Linked DNA regions of Homo sapiens. The protein of the gene in region 1 purifies or fractionates together with the protein of each later gene. This does not show direct contact. Each region holds a gene or a part of one and is shown in the gene's direction. Other genes may lie near its edges.

Region 1 (7,746 bases):
GAAAGAAGAGGAAACAAGCTACACTGAATGATGGTTCAAGACCACCAAGTGTATGGCCAAACTGCCTGGGTCTGTCACTTTTTAGCTGTGTAGCTTTGGGAAATTTATTTCTGTGCCTCTGTTTTCTCATCTATAAAAAAGGGACAATAATATTAGTTCTTACCCCATAGGATAATTGTGAAGTTTAAATGAATTAATAACTGGCAAGTGCTTAGAACAGTTCCTGGTATGTAGCAAGTATTCAACAAATATTGTGTGTGTGTGTGTGTTTAGGGAGTAGTATGTCTAAAATTTTTAGCTCAGGTTAGGTGATACCATAATGAAATGAGTTTAGAACATGATGAATTTCAATTATCTGGAGGAACCCTTCACTTCTCCACACCTCAATTTCTGCTGTCTTAATTGAAAATAGGCACTTAGGGTGGTCCCAGGAAACTGTTGAGCAGGTGAAATGAGCACAGGTGAAAATGTGGTCAACAAGAGAGAATTTCAAGGACTTGGCAGTTCTGGCGCTTGGGCTGTGTTTCCAGCCTCACACACAAGGTTCTGGTTTGTACTTTTTAAATGAAATGTAGATTCAATAACTAGTACAGTTAGTGTAAAGACACATGAACAAATTAAAGCAATGATAAGACGCTGTGGTAGTCAATAAAGCTGGTTCATCAGACACACCAGGTTCTCCCTCCTCCCAGAGGTAAGATAACTGCTCTTCCTGGCCCCCTGGTGGTTGTGTAGGACTTTGTGATTCATTCAGGTCAATGAGTTGTAAAAATCAGTGTCTTGAGTCATTTTGTTAATATGAGTCCCTCTAGCATTCTTTCCCTCTGGTATTACTACTCATCAGTGTGGGTTTCCCCAGTAGCTATCATTAGCAGAGCCCCACCATACCTTCCAGAGATGATTATGTAGTGTGAGCAAGAAACACGCCTTTTTTTTTTCTTTTAAGCCACTCAGATTTTGGAGTTGTTTCCACAACATAACCTAGTCTATCCTGATACTGATACTATTTTAATACATATCAAGTTCTTAAAAATTAAGTAGTTAACACCCAGTACTAATAGGGGTGTGGGGAAACACTTTCAGATTTGCTAGTGAGAGTAATAATTGTTACAACCTTTTAGAAAGGTAATTTGACCGCAGATTCTATTAAAATGGAAAAAAAGGGGCCGGGTGCAGTGGCTCACACCTATAATCCCAGCACTTTGGGAGGCCGAAGCGGGCGGATCACCTGAGGTCGAGTGTTTGAGACCAGCCTGTCCAACATGGAGAAACCCCATCTCTACTAAAAATACAAAATTAGCCGGGCGTGGTGGTGCATGCCTGTAATCCCAGCCTCTGGGGAGGCTGAGGCAGGAGAATCGCTTGAACCCCAGAGGCGTAGGTTGTGGTGAGCCGAGATCCTGCCATTGCACTCCAGCTTGGGCAACAAGAATGAAACTCTGTCTCAAAAAAAAAAAAAAAGGCCAGGCGCGGTGGCTCACGCCTGTAATCCCAGCACTTTGGGAGGCCGAGGGGGGCAGATCACGAGGTCAGGAGATCGAGACCATCTTGGCTAACACGGTGAAACCCCATCTCTACTAAAAATACAAAAAATTAGCCGGGCGTGGTGGCGGGCGCCTGTAGTCCCAGCTACTCGGGAGGCTGAGGCAGGAGAATGGCCGGGTGCAGTGGCTCACCGCTATAAAACCAGCACTTTGGGAGTCCAGGGCAGGTTGATCACTTGAGGTGGTGGGTGGATCACCTGAGGTGGTGGGTGGATCACCTGAGGTCAGGAGTTCGAGACCAGCCTCGCTAACATGATGAAACCCCGTCTCTACTAAAAATATAAAAATTAGCTGGGCGTGGTGGTGGGCACCTATAGTCCCAGCTACTCGGGAGGCTGTTGCAGGAGAACCCAGAGGCGTAGGTAGGCTGTGGTGAGCCGAGATCCAGCCATTGCACTCCAGCCTGGGCAACGAGAATGAAACTCCGTCTCAAAAAAAAAAAAAAAAAAAAAAAAAAAAAAAAAAAAGGCCGGTTGCGGTGGCTCACGCCTGTAATCCCAATCCCAGCACTTTGGGAGGCCCAGGAGGCGGAACCCGGGAGGCGGAGCTTGCGTGAGTCGATATCGCGCCACTGCAGTCCAGCCTGGGCTACAGAGCGAGACTCCGTCTCAAAAAAAAAAAGGAAAAAAAAGGCCTGGCGAGGTGGCTCATGCCTGTAATCCCAACACTTTGGGAGGCCAAGGTGAGCAGATCACAAGGTCAGGAAATTGAGACCATCCTGGCTAACACAGTGAAACCCCGTCTCTACTAAAAATACAAAAAATTAGCCAGGCGTGGCGGCACGCACCTGTAGTCCCAACTACTCAGGAGGCTGAGGCAGGAGAATCGCTTGAACCCAGGAGGTGGAGGTTGCAGTGAGCCGAAATCGTGCCACTGCAGTCCAGCCTGGGCGACAGAGCGAGACTCTGTCTCAGAAAAAAAAAAAGAAAAGAAAAGAAAAAGAAAGAAAGGGCCGGGAGCAGTGGCTCACGCCTGTAAGTAATCCTAGCACTTTGGGAGGCGAGGCGGGTGGATCACTTGAGGTCAGGAGTTTGAGACCAGCCTGGCCAACATGGCGAAACCTCGTCTCCACCAAAAATACAAAAACTAGCCGGGTGTGGTGGCAGGGGCTTGTAATCCCAGCTACTCGGGAGGCTGAGGCAGGAGAACTGCTTGAACCCGGGAGGTGGAGGTTGCAGTGAGCCGAGATCGCACCATTGCACTCCAGCTTGGGTGACAAGAGCGAAACTCAGTCTCAAAAACAAACAAACAAACAAAAAAAGGAAGGCTCGGCGCAGTGGCTCACACCTGTATGTAATCCCAGCACTTTGGGAGGCCGAGGTGTGACGAGGCCAGCCTGGCTAACACGGTGAAACCCCGTCTCTACTAAAAATACAAAAAATTAGGCGGGCGTGGTGGCACGCGCCTGTAGTCCCAGCTACTCGGAAGGACGAGCCAGGAGAATCGCTTGAACCCGGGAGGTGGAGGTTGCAGTGAGCCAAGATCGCGCCATTGCACTCCAGCCTGGGCGATAGAACGAAACGCCTTCTCAAAAAAAAAAAAAAAAAAAAAAAAAAGGAAAAAAGCACATATTATTTTACTCAAATTCCATTTTGGGAAATCTTTTCTTTTTGTTTTTTGTTTTGTTTTGTTTTTGAGACGGAGTCTCGCTCGGTCACTTAGGCTGGAGTGCAGTGGCGCGATCTCCTCTCACTGAAGCCTCTGCCACCGGGGCTCAAGCGATCCTCCCCCCGCCTCAGCTGCGGAGTTGCTGGGACCACAGACGCGAACTACCACGCCTGGCTTTTTTTTTTTTTTTTTTACCTTGTATTTTTAGTCGAGATGGCGTTTCGCCGTGTTGCCCAGGCTGGTCTGGAACTCCTGGGCTCTAGCAATCCTCCCGCCTCGGACACAAAGCGCCCGGCCTGGGGAATCTTTTCTACAGAAATAAAAGTACTACTTCAAAAGGATGTTTATTTTTATTGTTGCGCTATTTGTCGGGGCTGAGAACGGAAAACAATCTAAACAATCTAAACTATTCAGGTGTCAAAAATACAAGTTATTGGTTTTTTGTTTTTTTGTTTTTTTTGGTTTTTTTGAGACGGAGTCTCGCTCTGTCGCCCAGGCTGGAGTGCAGTGGCGCGATCTCCGCTCACCGCAAGCACCGCCTCCCGGGTTCACGCCATTCTCCTGCCTCAGCCTCCCGAGTAGCTGGGACTACAGGCGCCCGCCACCACGCCCGGCTAACATTTTTAGTACAGACGGGGTTTCACCGTGTTAGCCAGGATGATCTCCATCTCCTGACCTCGTGATCCGCCCGCCTCTGACTCCCAAAGTGCTGGGATTACAGGCGTGAGCTACCGCGCCCGGCCAAAAATACAAGTTTTACCTTTTTTATTGGCTTCAGGTAATGTCCACATGTTAAATGAAAACAACAAAAATCCAAATACAGAAACTCGTACATACAAGACTGGAAAATGAAGCTGTATTACCTGAAAGGAGCGGAGTGGTGATGGGGCAAGAGAGAATATTATCACGTTTTTCTTATTACATCTTGATAGCCTTTACAATTTGTATCACTTATGTAACAAAACAAACTCAAGTAAAACTGAGAGAATAAAGCTCTGAACCTATGAGCGTTTCCCTAAGTCTTTACACAATGAATATAGTAATGGGGCCACTAGTCGAGGGTGGTAGGAGCGGCGGAGACTCGGTAATATACTGGCCACGCCTACTCTGCCCTGCCAGTCTCTTCTCACGTGTGCCCCTGGAAGGCTCTGCCTTAACGCATGCGTAGTTACCTTAGTTTTCGTCGCCTCTGAGGGGCGCCCCGCGGCTTTGGATTTGACCCCGTCAGGCTACCGTCGCGGTGACCGGAACGGCACTAAAGGTTTGCTTCCGGGCGTTTCTTTTGCTTCCCCTTCCCTCTTTCACGCTTCCTCCCCTCCCCCTCCTCCCTTATCCCTTCGCTTTCGCTCTTTTCCGTCGAGGCCGACCCCTGAGTTGTGAGTCTGGGGTCTGGTTGGTGAAAAAGAGCCCTTGAAGCTGGAAGACGGGAGGTGCGGGGAATACTGTTGAGTTATTTGGTGACCAAAGGCTTATCTGGGACGTTTTGTTTGTGGGAGGGGGTCGGGCGAGGGTGGGAAGGAAGTCTTCCCCAGAGGCGAACGGGGGCGGGGCTGAACTGGGTTTGCGAATGGGTAGGACGCACCCCTAGAATGGGTAGCACGGGGGTGGGCTGGTGTGTGGGCAGAGGAAAATGGAGGCGCTGAAAATCAGATTTTCTTTAACCGTTTGATTAAAAAAGCAGTTCACACGAATGTGTGAAGTATTTGGATTGTGGATATTAGGTACCCACGTTTTATTCCCAGGTTGCTTTACTTCTCTGTACTTTGGGGGAAACCTTTTTGCTGCAAGCTTTCGTGTGTTTGAATATCATAGACTTTTTAAAAAGTAAAATTCCACATGGAAGCAAAGTAATATAAGGGGAACAAGTAATGAAAGAGAAAACACTGAGTTAGTGAGTTCCAAATCAACTCCATCCCCAGGTGGGGTTTTGTTTAAATTAGGCATAGCATACAAAGATTTATCACATTAGTTAAGGAACACATATAGACCACAAAAATATCTTATAGATTGGTTCTCTTCAGTATCCCAAAAGATTATTTTTAAAGTTCGGTTTGTTTTGAGACAGGGTCTCACTTTGTCACCCAAGCTGGAATGCATGGCGCGAACATAGCTCACTACAGCAGCTACTCCTGGGCTCAAGCGATCCTCCCACTTCAGCCTCCTGAGTAGCTGGAACTAAAGGCGTGCACCACCACACGTGGCTAATTTTTGTATTTTTTTGTAAAGACGAGTCTTGCCATGTTGCCCAGGCTGGTCTTGAACTCCTGCCCTCAAGCGACCCTCCTGCCTCGGCCTCTAAAAGTGCTGAGATTACAGGTGTAAGCCACTGTGCCAGCCCAAAACATTATTTTCAGTAGCTCTCTACTGCTTAATGAATGTTCTCCATGCCGTCTCAAACTCTTAAATCTTTTTCAGGAGTGTTAGCGTACAGCAGAAGATAAGAACTCTTAAAAATCTCAGCATCAGATTCTGGAGAATAGGGAGGGAGAACATGGAATATTTGAATAGAATAACAGGCAGCAGAGTAGGAATTAGTTTTATTAGGGAACTGAAATTCTCTATTGATTGATTGTAGTTATAAGGACTCCAATTTAATTTGTTTTCTGTTCCATGCAGAGGACAAAAGCATGTCTTCCCTTCCTGGGTGCATTGGTTTGGATGCAGCAACAGCTACAGTGGAGTCTGAAGAGATTGCAGAGCTGCAACAGGCAGTGGTTGAGGAACTGGGTATCTCTATGGAGGAACTTCGGCATTTCATCGATGAGGAACTGGAGAAGATGGATTGTGTACAGCAACGCAAGAAGCAGCTAGCAGAGTTAGAGACATGGGTAATACAGAAAGAATCTGAGGTGGCTCACGTTGACCAACTCTTTGATGATGCATCCAGGTGAGAACTCCATGGAAAATAGAAGGAAATCTCTCCATTGGGAGATGTTTTTAGAGAATAATTGTTCATGACATTGAACCAAGCATTTTATTTTATGTTTTGAGACGGAGTCTCGCTCTGTCACCCAAGCTAGAGTGCAGTGGAGTGATCCTGGCTCACTGCAACCTCCACCTCTCGGGTTCAAGTGATTCTCCCACCTCCCCCTCCCGAGTAGCTGGAATTATAGGCATCCGCCACCACACCCAGCTAATTTTTTATATTTTTAGTAGAGACAGGGTTTCACCATGTTGGCCAGGCTGTGTACCAAACATTTTATACTTTATGAAGTACAGATGTTTAGAACCTTACTCTTCCTCAAAGTTTATGGTCAAAAATCTGACCTTACAATCAGCCGTAAATATAATTTTCATCTGTCAGCAGCTAATACATGATCAGCAGTAAGGGAGTCCAAGTCTTAAGTCCTTTCCCCTTCTTCCTCCTGTGCTCTATCTTAGAACAATTGCTTCATTTCCCTAGTAAGATCATCCAGGGAGTGAGGATTGTAAAGAATTTCTGTCTTACGTAACTCTGAAGCATTAGTAAGTTCCCATACCCCCAAAAGATTTGTTTCTGGTGCTCTAGTTGTCACTTAGAATACATTGTTTTTAAATTTATTATACTTTAAGTTCTAGGGTATATGTGCACAACGTGCAGGTTTATTACATATGTATACATGTGCCATGTTGGTGTCACTTACATTAGGTATATCTCCTAATACTATCCCTCCCCCTTCCCCCCACCCCACGACAGGCCCCAGTATGTGACGTTCCCCATCCTGTGTCCAGGTGTTCTCATTGTTCAATTCCCACCTATGAATGAGAACGTGCGGTGTTTGGTTTTCTGTCCTTGCTATAGTTTGCTCAGAATGATGGTTTCCAGCTTCATCCATGTGCCTACAAAGGACATGAACTCATCCTTTTTTATGGCTGCATAGTATTCCATGGTGTATATGTGCCACATTTCTTAATCCAGTCTATCATTGATGGACATTTGGGTTGGTTTAAAGTCTTTGCTATTGTGGATAGTGCCGCAATAAACATACGTGTGCATGTGTCTTTATAGCAGCATGATTTATAATCCTTTGGGTATATACCCAGTAATGGGATTGCTGGGTCAAATGGTATTTCTAGTTCTAGATCCTTGAGGAATCGCCACACTGTCTTCCACAATGGTTGAACAAGTTTACAGTCCCACCAACAGTGTAAAAGTGTTCCTGTTTCTCTACATCCTCTCCAGCACCTGTTGTTTCCTGACTTTTTAATGATCGCCATTCTAACTGGTGTGAGACGGTATCTCATGGTGGTTTTGATTTGCATTTCTCTGATGGCCACTGATAATGAGCATTTTTTTATTTTATTTTTATTTTATTTTATTTTTTTTTTAGACAGAGACTTGCTCTGTCTCACCCAGGCTGGAGTACAGTGACGTGATCTCGGCTCACTGCAGCCTCCGCCTCCCGAGTTCAAGCAGCTCTCCTGTCTCAGCCTCCGGAGTAGCTGGGACGACAAGCGTGTGCCACCACACCCGGCTAATTTTTGTATTTTTAGTAGAGATGGAGTTTTACCATGTCGGCCAGGCTGGGGAGGTCAAATTCCTGACCTCAAGTGATCTACCTGCCTCAGCCTCCCAAATTGCTGGGATTGCAGGTGTGAGCCACCACTGCCAGCC
Region 2 (6,903 bases), on another chromosome or scaffold:
GTGGGGAGGAAGATAAAGGTGAGGGAGACTCCAGAGAGGGCAGGCTTCTTCAGTCTGCAAGAGCAACGGAAGAATTTCTAGGTGGAAAGGGGAACTCCCCCAAGCTAGAGAAGGAGGGAGTCTCAGGTTTCCTTTAATTCATTATTCTTTACACCGCAACACCACTCCCCACCCCACCCTGACCAGGTCCCCAGATGGGCACTGAGTCTAGGAAGGATCCATCAGCATCATTTATCCCTACTCCCAGTCCCCCACAGAAATCTTAGAAATCCAGTGTTCTGGTTGGCCGGGCGCGGTGGCTCACGCCTGTAATCCCAGCACTTCGGGAGGCCGAGATGGGCGGATCATGAAGTCAAGAAATAGAGACCATCCTGGCTAACATGGTGAAACCTCATCTCTACTAAAAATACAAAAAATTAGCCGGGCGTGGTGGCACATGCCTGTAGTCCCAGCTACTCAGGAGGCTGAGACAGGGGAATTGCTTGAACCCGAGAGGCAGAGTTGTGGTGAGCTGAGATCACGCTACTACACTCCAGCCTGGGCAACAGAGCGAGACTCCGTCTCAAAAAAAAAATGTGGTATACACAATGGAATACTATTCGGCCATAAAAAACAATGAAATCATGTCTTTTGCAGCAACATGAATGAAACTGAAGGCCATTAATTTGAGTGAAACAACTCAGAAACAGAAAGACAAATACTGAATCTTTTCACTTGTAAGTGGGAGCTAAATAATGTGTACACATGGACATAGCATGTGGAATTATAAACAACAGAAACTTGGAAGGGTGGGGAGGTGGGAAGGAAGTAGATGATGAGGAAATTACTTAACGAGTACAATGTGCATTATTCAGGCTATGGATACAGTAAAATGCCTGACTTCACCACTACACAATGTATCCGTGTAACAAAATTACACTTGTGGCCTGGCACTGTGGCTCATGCCTGCAATCCCAGCACTTTGGGAGGCCAATGCACATTATTCAGTTGATGGATACAGTAAAATGCCTGACTTCACCACTACACAACGTATCCATGTAAAAAAATTACACTTGTGGCCTGGCGCTGTGGCTCATGCCTGTAATCCTAGCACTTTGGGAGGCCAATGTACATTATTCAGATGATGGATACAGTAAAATGCCTGACTTCACCACTACACAATGTATCTGTGTAACAAAATTACACTTGTGGCCTGGCATGGTGGCTCATGTCTGTAATCCGAGCACTTTGGGAGACCAAGGCAGGTGGATCACTGGAGGCCAGGAGTTTGAGACCTGCCTGGCCAACGTGGTGAAACCCCATCATCTCTACTAAAAATACAAAAATTAGCCAGGTGTGGTGGCACACGCCTGTAATCCCACCTACTCAGGAGGCAGAGGCAGGAAAATCGCTTGAACCCGGGAGGCAGAGGTTGCAGTGAACCGAAATCACGCCACTGCACTCCAGCCTGGGTGACAGAGTGAGACTCTGTCTCAAAAAAAAAATATTATATTTGTACCCAATAAATTTATATGAAACAATTAAATGCTTCTGAGATCTGGCTTAATGGTTGCTCAGCCTGCATTCTGGTTCCACATGTAGGTCTGCTTGTGAAAACTCATTACAGTGTTCACCCCTGGTCTGTGTACCCTTCTGTATTTGTGTTACACTCCAATCTGAGGTTTACATTACAATAGGTCAAACCTGTGAATAAAACCTTATATTGGCTCCGGCACTGGGCAACGCAGTAATCATTAAATTAATGCTGAATGAACAGACAACTGGCTGGGAGTGGGACACGGTAGCAATAAGATGGCCTCTTAACTTTTGAGGTCTCCTGAAAAAGTGCTAGTCCAGAATGATTCACTTTCCAGATGAGCAGGAGACACCCACCCCAAGGTCACTTACTGCAGGTTTTACAGACCAGTTTAAGAAACTGCCTAAGATCAAGTAATTTAGTAAATGGCAGAGCCTGGATATGAGTCCAGGTAGTCAGGCTCCAGAATCCAGACTTTTGCCCACTACTTTATAGTGTTTGGGGGCACTACTGGCGACAGACCCTTTTGTCTCCCTCTCAGATCCAGACAGGCAGAGGTCCTGTCTTAAATCACTCTTGTGGGTTGGACAGGTCTCCTGGACACCCGGGAGTGGGAGAGCCCTGCTGCCCGAGGAGACTGGGGGTACATGAGGATGAGCACCTGACTCTGCTCGAGAAGGAGTAAGGGAGGGAAGGGGATGCATGGTGGGACCTTCGCTCCTGTCTGTCCCCTCAGGGCAAGCTGGGGCTGACGGAACCTCAGACCAGCCAGTCACTTCTTAATGAGCTCACAGCTGGACTGGCAGGCAGACAGAATATCCGTTTGGTTAACTGTATAACTGTTTGGTTGACTACAGAACTCATGGAGTGACAGGGAGAAGGCGCAACTTGAGGACGTGACAGCGCAGTTTCCTGAACATCTAACTGAATGACAGCCTGCCTAGGACTGGCTGGGGCTGGTAGCCTGACAGTGGAAAAGACAGGCAGCCTCCTGAGGACCTTGCAGGCTGGCTGACTGATGGCCCGTGGTGCTACTGCCTGCCTGGGTGGCCGGATGTTGTGAATGACTATTGTCAGGAATCACAGCTGGCGGGGGAATGTCTAGATGTTATACTGTCTGGCACCGTGTAAAGGAGGGCCACCTGGGGAAACTTCAGGCTAACTGATCAACAGACCCGTGGCTGCTTGCTAGGCAGCTGTATCTGGTGATCAACTATCCACGCTGCTCGAATCACAGCATGCTGGAGGGCCTGGCTGGGTGCTCTGACTGACTGATCACCTGACAGACGGTGCGGTCAGTCGGATGCTGAGAATGACTGACGATGTGATGAGGGGCGGATTGAACGAGTCACAGGCCAGCTGGCCAGGAGCAAAATCGGCATAGCTGTCTGACTCGATGGCTGTACGTGGTTACGGACTGTCTGCCCTGATAGAATCTCAGCTTCAACGCATCAGAGGAGACTGACTTGACCAATGGTGGGGATGAGTCGCCTGAGAAATGACAGACTGGCTGACCCACTGACAGGTGGTGTGGAGGCTTAATCCTACCTCTAGTTGCTGTGACTATTTGCTTTGAGGGCCTAGCTGGATGTTGTGACTGATCGTGGTGTGAATGAGAAGTAATCTGAGGGAAAGACAGTGACCAACTGATAGTGCCCGACAGGGCTGTATTAGATGCTGACAGTGACAGCTTGTCCCGACCTAATCACAGCCCGCCTGGGGGCATGGCTGGATGCTGCAGTCTATGAGAGGATTTAGCCAGGGAGAATCGCAGCTGGTCCCAGGGCTATGGTGGGTGGAGAGGAGGACTGATTGATCTGCTGACAACGTGAGGACAGGATGGTCTTAGGGAATGATAAGGCAGGCTGGCTAACAGTGCTGTCTGCCTGCCTCCAGGGAGTCGCCGCTGGCCAGGGCACAAATGGAAGCCAGTATTGACTGCCCAGCAGTGTGGATGGGGGCCGGGAGTCTGACTAGGCACCTGTCTGGGGCGACCGCCTGAGCAGTTGGATACGGCACTAGTCCACCTGGGAGCCCCGGCCTGCTTGGGGTTAAAATGAGATGACGGGCTGACTGACGGTGATAACAGGGAGTATGACAGGACTGAGGAACCACTGCGACTGGCTGATAACGTGATTGGCTAGCAGTGTGACAGACAGACCAGCGCACGGGCAGGGCCTCTGGCAACTTTAGCTACCGCCGCTGTCGCTCCCGCTGCCGCCGCCGCCCAGACGCACTCTGGGAAAGCGCGGCGAGCACCCGCCTCCGGGACCGAGCCGGGCGGCAGGGAGGGGTTCGGTCACGGCTCTCCGGTTGGTCCGCGCGGGTGCTGCGAGTCGGGAGCCGCGGCCAATAGGCTGCGCGTTCCCGGCCACGCCCGCGCGAGCGCTCTTCTCGCGAGGCCGGCTAGGCCCGAATGTCGTTAGCCGTGGGGAAAGATGGCGGAAAATTTAAAAGGTGAAGCAGTGGAGGCAGAGGCGCGGGCCCGCTGGCCGGGCCGGGTGGGCTGGAGGGGTGGCGTTGCCGGCTCGGGGCCCCGGCGTCCGAGGCCCCGGCGCCGGGAGCCGGAAGCTCGGCGCGGAAAGGATGAGGCTCGGGGAGCGCGGGCCTGGTGCGCGGGGCTGGGCGGGGCTCAGGGGAGGGGGCGCGCGCCTCGGAACGCAGCGGGCCTGGGGCTAAGTGGGGACGCAGGAGGGGGGCGCGCGCTGCAGATCGCGGCCGGACCGGCGCGCGCACGCGCGGGGGCTTGTCGAGGAGGCCGCGCCCGCGCGCGGGAAAATCGGCCCCTGGTGACCGTTACCCATTCGGTGTCCACGCGAGACGCCGGAAGGGGAGGGAAGATAAGGGGGACAGACCCCCCCTTCAGAGTGCGGGGACTGAGAACTCTTCTGGGGGAAAGTATCGCCTCTCGGCGTGATGGGGGAAGGGTTTGGAATAGAGGATCTCCCAGAAGAGAGAAATGGGGCCTTCCTAATAGGACAGCTGGACTCCCCCATGTGCAGGGAAAGAGGGGTGACTCAGTTATGTTGGGGGGCCCCTCTATGTGACGAAAGCCGCAGGGAGGATGGGTTCCACAAGTGGGAGGACCTCTGAGGGGTTCAGGAGAGTCCACCTGTGGCCAGTTCCGGAGCCAGCAGCTGGAGGGTGTTAATTGGGACCACTTAAGTGGGGTTTCAAATGCAAGTGAAGGAAGGGGTTTGCGAGGACAGGCTGTAGGGAGAGGAAAGCGTGGGCACAGGCGGGCTCAGTCTCCACTTGGTCTTGCCTAAGTAGGGGGGGTAGGGCTTGCACACGAAATAATTTTGAAAAGCTCTTGTACGTTTTTAGGTTGACATCTAAAGTTTAGGTGTGATTTTTGCAATGGGAGGCAGAAAATATTAAACATTTTAAAAAGATGATATAGGATGAGGACTGACTGCCCTTGGAATGTTTTGAGACATGATTTGATAAAATGGCTTCTAAAGTACTTTGATTAAGAATGTGCCTTGAATCAGAAAGAAATCTGTTTTTTAAAATCCGTGTGTCTTACAAAATTTTGGCAGTCCCAGAAATATACCAGGTATATTTAAAAGAATCAGTGTCACTAATCTGTACCGCTTTGCGTATAAATTCAGAGCATAACCCTTTGGATGAGCTTTACTCTTCACAGAAAGATGGATGAGACAGAAAGTCAAAATGCAGTGTGAAAAAATATACCTTGTGGATTTAAGGCACCCAGATTGATCATTTAAGGAGCCTTCCTGTAATGTAGTATCATTCCACAATCTCTTGCTCATAATTCCGAAATCTAAAAAGCCCTGAAAACTGAAATCCTTTTCTTAAATTTGGCACCATTTATGGCAAAAGTAGATTATAAAGTGGAACTCTTCTGTGAGGCTATTTTATATCTCTATTTCTCCTATTTAATGTGGGAAATTCATACTTTTGCTGCAGGACGGTTAATGCATTTGATTATAGCTTGATGTCCCCTGGCCACGCTGGGGGTGTTAGGTGATGTATGGGATATCCTAGAACTAGTCTTGTAAAATCCAAAAAATTTTGAATTCCAAAACACATCTGGCCCAGGAGTTTGAGATAAGGGATTAAAGACCAGTCTTTCCAGTTACGCCTTTGTTTGGTGCCCTGGAGGTTTTAATCTTGTCCTCCCATCCGCCCCACCTCGGGGCACTGCATCCTACTGAGATGGGGGGTTGTTCTCTTTCTTTTGCAAAGTGGAGAGAGGGGTGATCAGGTCCTGAACCCAAAGCAGGTTTGCAGGCAGTTTTAGGAATGACATGGAGTTTGAAGCTCTGGAAATAGATTCCTTTAGGACAATTCATGTTGCAAACCCCGCTTAGAGGTCTGCTGCTCCAGGGGCAGCTTTGGGCAGTGAGTATTGGGGTTCAAAGCACATTTCTGTTGTAGAACAGTCTCAGCACTGGGGAAGGCCTGTGGATTAAATTTCCCTGACTCTTAGTCAGTCTTTGGGATGTCCCAGGGAGGATTTGGGGTCCCCTTTGACTCCTGGCCTAGTCAGGCTGCCCAGTAATAGTTCTTTCTGCCCCGCTTGATCCAGGCTGCAGCGTGTGTTGCAAGTCTTCTTGGAATCAGCTGCAGGACCTGTGCCGCCTGGCCAAGCTCTCCTGCCCTGCCCTCGGTATCTCTAAGAGGAACCTCTATGACTTTGAAGTCGAGTACCTGTGCGATTACAAGAAGATCCGCGTGAGTCTGGGGTGACCATGCTCTGGGAGGGGACAGGTCACAAGGAAGTTAGTGTCCTGCCCTCTTGTCCCCAACTGCCCACATCTGTTTCCAAAGGGAATTTTCTCCTTTGACCCTGAAAACACAGGATGAATAGACCCTTTTATCCCTATGTTACAGATAGGGAAACTAAGTAGCTTTCTGGGCAGGAGCCGGAATGAATTCCCAAATAAATCTCTTCCCATCTCCCTAGGAATACAAAGTAATTGCAGAGATTGAGATGCTGAACCCTGGAGTGGAAATGTCAATAGCTAATGGCTATTGAGCACTTTCAGTGTGCCAGGCGTTTCCTCTCGGAAACTCATTTAATCCCCTAACAACTGAAATGGGGATAGTTATTGCCAGAAGGGGGAGTGGCAGGATGGTTAGGAGAACAAACTGGAGTCAGCATGCTTGGGTTCCAGTCCTGGTTGTGTTACCCCAGGCTACCTACCCAAACCTTCAGTACTTCATTTTCCTTGTCGTAAAAGAGGGATAACTAGGAGCATCTACCTCATGTGGGGTTGTGAGGATTAAGTTAGTTAATAATACATGTAAGCTGCCTAGAACAGGCAAGGACTTGTCAGGGTCCAGGTGAGCCAGGGTGGTGGCAGTGATGATGGTTTGTCACTGGACGTATTTTGAAGGTGGGGCCAACGGGATGTGCA
Region 3 (7,389 bases), on another chromosome or scaffold:
CCCGTAATCCCAAGCACTTTGGGAGGCTGAGGCAGGCAGATAACGAGGTCAGGAGATGGAGACCATCCTGGCTAATATGGTGAAACCCCGTCTCTACTAAAAATACAAAAAAATTAGCCGGGTGTGGTGGCGGGCGCCTGTAGTCCCAGTTACTTGGGAGGCTGAGGCAGGAGAATGGTGTGAACCCAGGAAGCGGAGCTTGCAGTGAGCCAAGATTGCACCACAGCACTCCAGCCTGGGCTACAAGAGCAAGACTCCGTCTCAAAAAATAAAATAAAATAAAATAAAATATAAATATAAATAAAAAAAAGAAAAGGCAAGCCAATAACTGGTAACACTTTTCACACTCTTCATCTTGAACTTATCAAAAAAAAGTTTGAGTTTCTTCCCAGGTCTGCTTCTTCCATGGCAAACAGAGGCTATGAGGCTTCTTCCAATTCTGGTTGACTTGCAGAGTAATTTTCTTGAAATTGACACCTTTTTTTGAATTGAATTAGTTCACACCTTTTTCTTTTTTTCTTTTTGTGACGGAGTTTCACTCTTATCTTCCAAGCTGGAGTGCAATGGCGTGATCTCGACTCACTGCAACCGCCGCCTCCCAGGTTCAAGTGATTCTCCTGCCTCAGCCTCCCAAGTAGCTGGGATTACAGGTGCGGGCCACCATCCCTGGCTAATTTTTCTATTTTTCATAGAGACGGGGTTTTACCATGTTGTCCAGGCTGGTCTTGAACTCCTGACCTCAGATGATCCACCCACCTCGGCCTTCCAAAGGGCTGAGATGACAGGCATGAGCCACCGCGCCTGGCCAACACCATTTTTAAATGGGGGGATTTCACATGGAAATCCAAATGTGTAGAGTTTTTCTTTTCAAATTAGCATATTTTACTTTTTAAGGTGTACAATGTGATGTTTTTCAAATAAAATGTATCATGTAGGACATGATGTTTTGAAATATGTGTACTTTGTGGAATGGCTAAATCAAGCTGATGAACATATGCATCACCTCACATTTTTTTGGGGGGGTGAGAATGTCTGTGCTCTGAAAAAAAAATGGGCAGTTCCGGCAATACATGGAAGCCATCCTCCACAGCTAAAAGGCAGAAACCGTCTGTTTTTTGTTTTGTTTTGTTTTTGTTTGTTTTTTTGAGACAGGGTCTTGCTCTGTTACCCAGGCTGGAGTGCAGTCATGACTATGGCTCACTGCAACCTCTGCCTCCCGGGTTTAAGTGATCATCCCTGCCTCAGCATCCTAACTAGGTAGAACTGCAGATGCGTACTAACACACTCAGCTAACTTTTTTTTTTTTTTTGAGACAGAGTCTCGCTCTGTTGCCCAGGCTGGAGTGCAGTGGCACGATCTCGGCTCACCGCAACCTCTGCTTCCCAGGTTCAAGCGATTCTCCTGCCTCGGCCTGGGACTACAGGCATCTGCCACCATGCCTGGCTAATTTTTTTTTATTTTTAGTAGGGACAGGGTTTCACTGTGTTAGCCAGAATGGTCTTGATCTCCTGACCTCAAGATCTGCCCGCCTCAGCCTCCCAAAGTGCTAGGATTACAGGTGTGAGCCACCGTGCCCGGCCCACACTTGGCTAATTAAAAAAAAAAAAAAAAATTGGTAGAGGCAGTCTCACTATATTGCCTAGGCTGGTCCCCAACTCCTAGGCTCAAACAATCCTCCCACCTTGGCCTCCCAGAATGCTGGGATTACAGGCATGAACCACCGCGTCTGGCCAAAAACCACCTTTGGACAGGGAATGGACACTCCGGCTTTTCATATTTTGTCCCCACACGGAGACACATTAAAGTAGAGTTTTAAACAAATGAATTATTTCTTGTAACCTAATCTTTATTGAAAGAAGAAAACAGGGCCAGGTGCGATGGCTCACGTCTGTAATCCCAGCACTTTGGGAGGCCGAGGCGGGCGGATCCCGAGGTCAGGAGATCGTAGACCATCCTGGCTAAGACGGTGATACCCCATCTCTACTAAAAATACAAAAAAAAAATTAGCCGGGCATGGTGGCAGGCACCTGTAAGCCTCAGCTACTCAGGAGGCTGAGGCAGGAGAATGGCATGAACCCAGGAGGCAGAGCTTGCAGTGAGCCAAGATCAGGCCACTGCACTACAGCCTGGGCGATAGAGCAAGACTCCGTCTCAAAGAAAAGAAAGAAAGAAAGAAGAAAACAGAAAGATAGAAAAAGAAAGTGTAACTTTCTTTGAGGAAGTGAAGAAATATTCAATGGTGTTTCATATAACTACAAATTAGGTCTGTTGAAAGAATATGTTACCCAGGCTGGAATGCAGTGGTGTGATCACAGCATACAACAGCCTTGAACTCATGGCCTCAAGTGGTCCTCTCACCTCAGCCTCCCGAGTAGCTGGGACTACAGGCATTTGCCACCATGCCTGCTGGCAAGTATATATCTTAAGTGAGAATTACACAATTCCTGAGGACATCTGACTTTGCCAACCCTCATTTAGTTTATCTGAACCCAACGTTATTGGTGAGATTGAACAACACTGAGTTTCCTTTGAGCTTTGAGCTGCTGTAATAAATTCTCTATAGAGTAGCAGCTATCTGCTTCCGATTTTACCTTCGGGGGTTTTTACTTAATTGACATATTATTTATTTATTTATTTATTTTTGAGACGGAGTCTCACTCCGTCGCCCAGGCTGGAGTACAGTGGGGCAATCTCAGTTCACTGCAACCTCCGCCTCCCAGATTCAAGCGATTCTCCTGCCTCAGCCTCCCGAGTAGCTAGGACTACAGGCGTGCGCCACCAACCCTGGCTAATTTTTGTATTTTTAGTAGAGACAGGGTTTCGCCATGTTGGCCAGGCCAGTTTCGAACTCCTGACCTCAAGTGATCCGCCCGCCTCGGCCACCCAAAGCGCTGGGATTACAGGCGTGAGCCACAGAGCCCGGCCGACACCATTTTTAAACGGAAAGATTTCATATGCAGATCCAAATTTGCAGGGTTTTTGTTTTGTTTTGTTTTGTTTTTCCAATTAGCACTTTTTGGGGGTTGTGTTTTAGGGCGTACCATGTGCTGTTTTTCCAGGACGTCGTGGTTTGTGCAGACCTGGTAAGACCTGATAAGTCCTGAAAGAAGTAGCCAAAATTTCATGTACTCTTCACAGAACCAGCTCTCAAAGCCTTTTCTGTCTCACCGGATCAACCCTGCAAGGGGACGAGGGTGGGGCGCAGGCGGCCGAGAGCCTTGCTGAGAATCACACAGGTGGTCAGTGGAAAAGCGTGTACCAGACCCAGGCCTCTCTGGAAGGTGGGCAGAGGAGGCGTTCGGCGGGAGAGGTGGAAATGAAAACGGGAAATCTAAAGAGAGGTGGCGGACTAGAAGGGGCAAGGGACGTGCAGAGGAAGATAGAGATTGAGGGGTGGTGATAGGGTAGTGTAAGCAGCAGAAGGGAAGGGCAGGGGACTGCCTCGAGGAGAAGGGGCGGCGGCAGCACGTCAGGGGCTTTTGGGGAATCTCATTCAACAAATGGCAAAATGGAGCCCAAGTGGTTTGCCCAAGGATGTCCAGCAGTTGGCAAGGTGGCAACTAGAACCCGCGTCTCCTAATCCCGGTCCAGGGATCTTTCTTCGCCTGTCACAGAGACAAGGGGCCAGTGCAGCGCTAGTGCGGAGAGACAAGGCTCCAGGCACGGAAAAGCAGATGCCGGGCCGGGGTTCCAGCGCCGCAGTCACGGCGGTGGACGGCAAGCTGTGCGGACGACTGGGGGCGCCATGAATGGTCGAGGATCCGGGGAGCCGAGTCCAGATCTTCCTGCAAGTGACCCCGAAGCGGCAATGGAACGGTGGCCGAAGTCTGCCCACAGCTTCCGCTTCGAAGGCGGCGTCGGAAATGCCGCGCCAGTATCCAGAGCCCTTCGGAACCTCCCGAGAGATGGTCAGGAGCTTTTGGAAACTTTAGGTCAGGGGCCAGCGACCAAAAGGCTGGTATTTCGGAACGGCTGCGTCTCCCGAGAAACCTCCAAGAGTATCTGAGGTTGCCGGAAAATGGTTAGAGAGCAGCCGAAATCAGCCGAATGCCATTCGGGATGCTCCGGAGCTTCTCGAGGCACATTCGGGCCCTCTCGGCTCTGCAAGACTGCACTGGAATCTTAGGTCTCCTTTCGTCGCCTAATCTTAGCAGATCCTTTCGTCGCCTAAATGGTAAGAGCGACTTGTACCGACAGTCCCTCGGCAATTTCCGGAAGTGTTCGGGATAGGCCCGAGCGTGGCGCCCTCTGGCGGCGGCCAGAGGTGGCGGGGGGCGGGGGGAGGTTAGTGGGCCAGCGCGCGCAGACGCAGTTGCGCGCCGGCGGCCGTTCAGACCGGATGTGGTTGTGGCTGAGGTCAGTTCCGGCGGGTGACGGTGCGGACGGGTCAGGAGCGTAGAGGCGGCGGCAAAATGGCGGCGCCTGAGGAGCGGGATCTAACCCAGGAGCAGACAGAGAAGCTGCTGCAGTTTCAGGTAGCAGCGAGTACTCGGTGCAGCAGATGCCTCCGTGGGATGGGGAGTAGGCCCCTAGAGGAGTTCAGAACCCTCCTCAGATTGGGTTCAGATCCTTCTCAGACCAGCAGGCCGGCCCCCTCCCCCCCAGACTCCAACTGCCCTGATTCCCCCGGCCCCCAAGCCTCTGTTGGACCCTAGCCTTCCAGCCATCGCTGCGGGCAGACCCGCCTCGTCTGTGCCTCTGTGCCCTCAGCGTGTCAGCTTCCCTGGTTTGCCTTAGCGGCGTCAGTCCTCAGCCATCCTTCCCAGCCCGGTTATCGGTCGGACCCTCTCCGCCCAACGAGTCTATATCTGCCGGAGAAGCTTAGTCCCCACCGCGGAGTTGGCGTCATTTCGGGTCTCTGACAGGAAAACCTCCTGCCAGCATCCCATGCCATTTCCACATACACTCCCACAAACTGGGGCCTCTTGGATACCAGGTTTCGTGTTGGGGGTTCCGGTCGGGGAGGGGGCACCTACACACAGATCTGGTCCCCGCCCTAGAGGTGTGGGAGGACACCAAGTGAGGAAACAATGCAAGATGATAAGTGTCATCAGTGGTCTGTCGGGATTTATTACTTTTGGCTTATTCCTGGATTCCTGTGCTTAACTATGCTTGAGGAGGGTGGTAACTTGCAGAAATGTTATGTTAATACAAGATGTTGTATTAAGAACATTTGCCACTGATCACTTACCCCTGAGCTGGAGAATGGTTGGAGGATACCACTAGGGTGGGTAACCTTGGCACTTTGTTACCAGTTTCCTTATCTCTGAAAGGACTGTCTTAAAAATGTCTACCCCCAGGCCAGGAGCGGTGGCTCACGCCTGTAATCCCAGCACTTTGGGAGGCCAAGGCCAGCGAATCACGAGGTCAGGAGTTCGAGACCACTCTGGCCAATATGGTGAAACCCCGTCTCTACTAAAAATACAAATATTAGCCGGGCGTGGTGGTGCACGCCTGTGGTCCCAGCTACTCGGGAGGCTAAGGCAGGAGACTCGCTTGAACCCGGGAGGCGGAGGTTGCAGTGAGCCGAGATCGTGCCACTGCACTCCAGCCTGGGCAACAAGAGTGAAACTCCGTCTCAAAAAAAAAAAAATCTACCTCCTGAGGATGTTCGGGAGATCAAATGGACATATGGATGTTAGAAGGGCCTTGTAGACTGCAAAATGCCCCCAAATAGTATTTTCTGCTATTAATTTGACTTAGGATAGACCTAAAGTTATTGATACACTTATTTCCTTATATAAAATGTGTAAATATTCATTTATTCAACTATATGAAGAACCTTAGTGCGCAGCGCTGCTAGGTAGAATCCCACTTACTATTTCAGATGTAAGTACTTTGTAAACACTTAGCATACATAACCTCATTTAATACAGCAACCCTATGAGGTTCATACTGTTCTAGTCCCTGATTTACAGATGAAGGGTATCAGGACTAAGAAATAAAATGCTTAGGTTACACAGCTAGAAAATGATGGTGTCAGATTTAAAGCTATGTCCATCTTCCAGAACCCTTCCCAGGCTTCTGACTTCTGTCTTGTGCAACTTATATTTCAGTGTACAGTTGAGTGTGGAATGCAAATGCTGAGAAAATAAATATTTTTTTGGCGAGTTCTCACTTTTTTGCAATTTCCTTGAATAGACTTCACTATAATAAATTTTGAAGTGGTTATTTTTTCCCCTCTTAAATTGAGCAGTGTGTTGGAAGTGTATAAATGGAAAAATGCTGTCATAGATGTAATTGACATTTGATTGGAATTTTTGGTAGAGAAATTGAATTGATGACCCAGCAAATTATTATTAGAGAATGAGTTAAACAGACAACCAGCTTACACTTCCAGGTAGACCACCAATTTCAGAGTGTTGTTTAACTTTGGCAGACCATTTTACCCCTTAGAACTCTTCAGGGGTAAGCTAACATGTGGTTTAAGTGCAATGAAGTAATGTGAGTTATAAATTATGGTATATTTAGTCTCATACTGGAAGAGCATGAATATAAATCTATGATAGCATTTCTGAAGTAAAGTGCATAGGAACCTCCATTTTATCTTCTGTGGAGATCTTTTTTTTTTTTTTGAGACGGAGTTTCGCTCTTGTTGCCCAGGCTGGAGTGCAGTGGCGCGATCTCGGCTCACTGCAACCTCCGCCTTCCAGTTTCAAGCGATTCTCCTGCCTCAGCCTCTCGAGTAGCTGGGACTACAGGCACGCGCCACCACATCCAGCGAATTTTTTGTATTTTTAGTAGAGACGGGGTTTCACGATGTTGGCCAGGATGGTCTCGATTTCTTGACCTCGTGATCCGCCCTCCTCGGCTGGGATTACAGGCGTGAGCCGCCGCGCCCGGCCAAAACTGTGGAGATCTTTATTAGAAGAGAGGTGGGTAGCAGGTTCGAGCTGTATTAAGATTGCCTTATGAAATTGGATTTATTGAGGGAAATGCATCTTTCATTTTTCTATTCTATAAGCAATCGCTGGATCAGATTCATTATCCAGACTGCCATTAAACAAACAGTTGTTGAAACTTATTAGATGCCAAGCATTATACCAAGCAGCAGTTGATGTACATTAACTCTTTTTTTAAGAAAAATATTTTAGACCATGTGTGGTGGCTCATGCTTGTAATCCCAGCACTTTGGGAGGCCGAGGCAGGTGGATCACCTGAGATCAGGAGTTCGAGACCAGCCTGGCCAACATGGCAAAACCTCGTCTCTACTAAAAATACAAAAATTAGCCAGGCATGGTGGCATGTGCCTGTAATCCCAGCTACTAGGGGGGCTGAGGCAGGAGGCTCACTTGAACCCGGGAGGTGGAGGTTGCAGTGAGCCAAGATCGTGCCACTGCACTCCAGCCTGGGCAACAGAGCGGGACTCTGTCTCAAAAAAAAAATTTT

Evidence for each region.
Region 2: the proteins of SETDB1 (region 1) and SUV39H1 purify together in Homo sapiens (affinity purification with mass spectrometry; 4 studies listed by BioGRID and IntAct, with this or other methods). This does not show direct contact.
Region 3: the proteins of SETDB1 (region 1) and FAF2 purify together in Homo sapiens (affinity purification with mass spectrometry; 5 studies listed by BioGRID and IntAct, with this or other methods). This does not show direct contact.

Annotation. Positions count from the first base shown.
Region 1 is NC_000001.11:150,921,936-150,929,681, forward strand, and holds the start of SETDB1 (histone-lysine N-methyltransferase SETDB1), read left to right. Parts: upstream 1-4,427; 5' UTR 4,428-4,582; exon of another isoform or gene 4,583-4,609; intron 4,610-5,768; 5' UTR 5,769-5,779; coding exon 5,780-6,039; intron 6,040-7,746. UniProt on the Homo sapiens protein: Histone methyltransferase that specifically trimethylates 'Lys-9' of histone H3. H3 'Lys-9' trimethylation represents a specific tag for epigenetic transcriptional repression by recruiting HP1 (CBX1, CBX3 and/or CBX5) proteins to methylated histones.
Region 2 is NC_000023.11:48,692,831-48,699,733, forward strand, and holds the start of SUV39H1 (histone-lysine N-methyltransferase SUV39H1), read left to right. Parts: upstream 1-3,903; 5' UTR 3,904-3,954; coding exon 3,955-3,973; intron 3,974-6,071; coding exon 6,072-6,217; intron 6,218-6,903. UniProt on the Homo sapiens protein: Histone methyltransferase that specifically trimethylates 'Lys-9' of histone H3 using monomethylated H3 'Lys-9' as substrate. Also weakly methylates histone H1 (in vitro).
Region 3 is NC_000005.10:176,443,996-176,451,384, forward strand, and holds the start of FAF2 (FAS-associated factor 2), read left to right. Parts: upstream 1-4,389; 5' UTR 4,390-4,412; coding exon 4,413-4,475; intron 4,476-7,389. UniProt on the Homo sapiens protein: Plays an important role in endoplasmic reticulum-associated degradation (ERAD) that mediates ubiquitin-dependent degradation of misfolded endoplasmic reticulum proteins.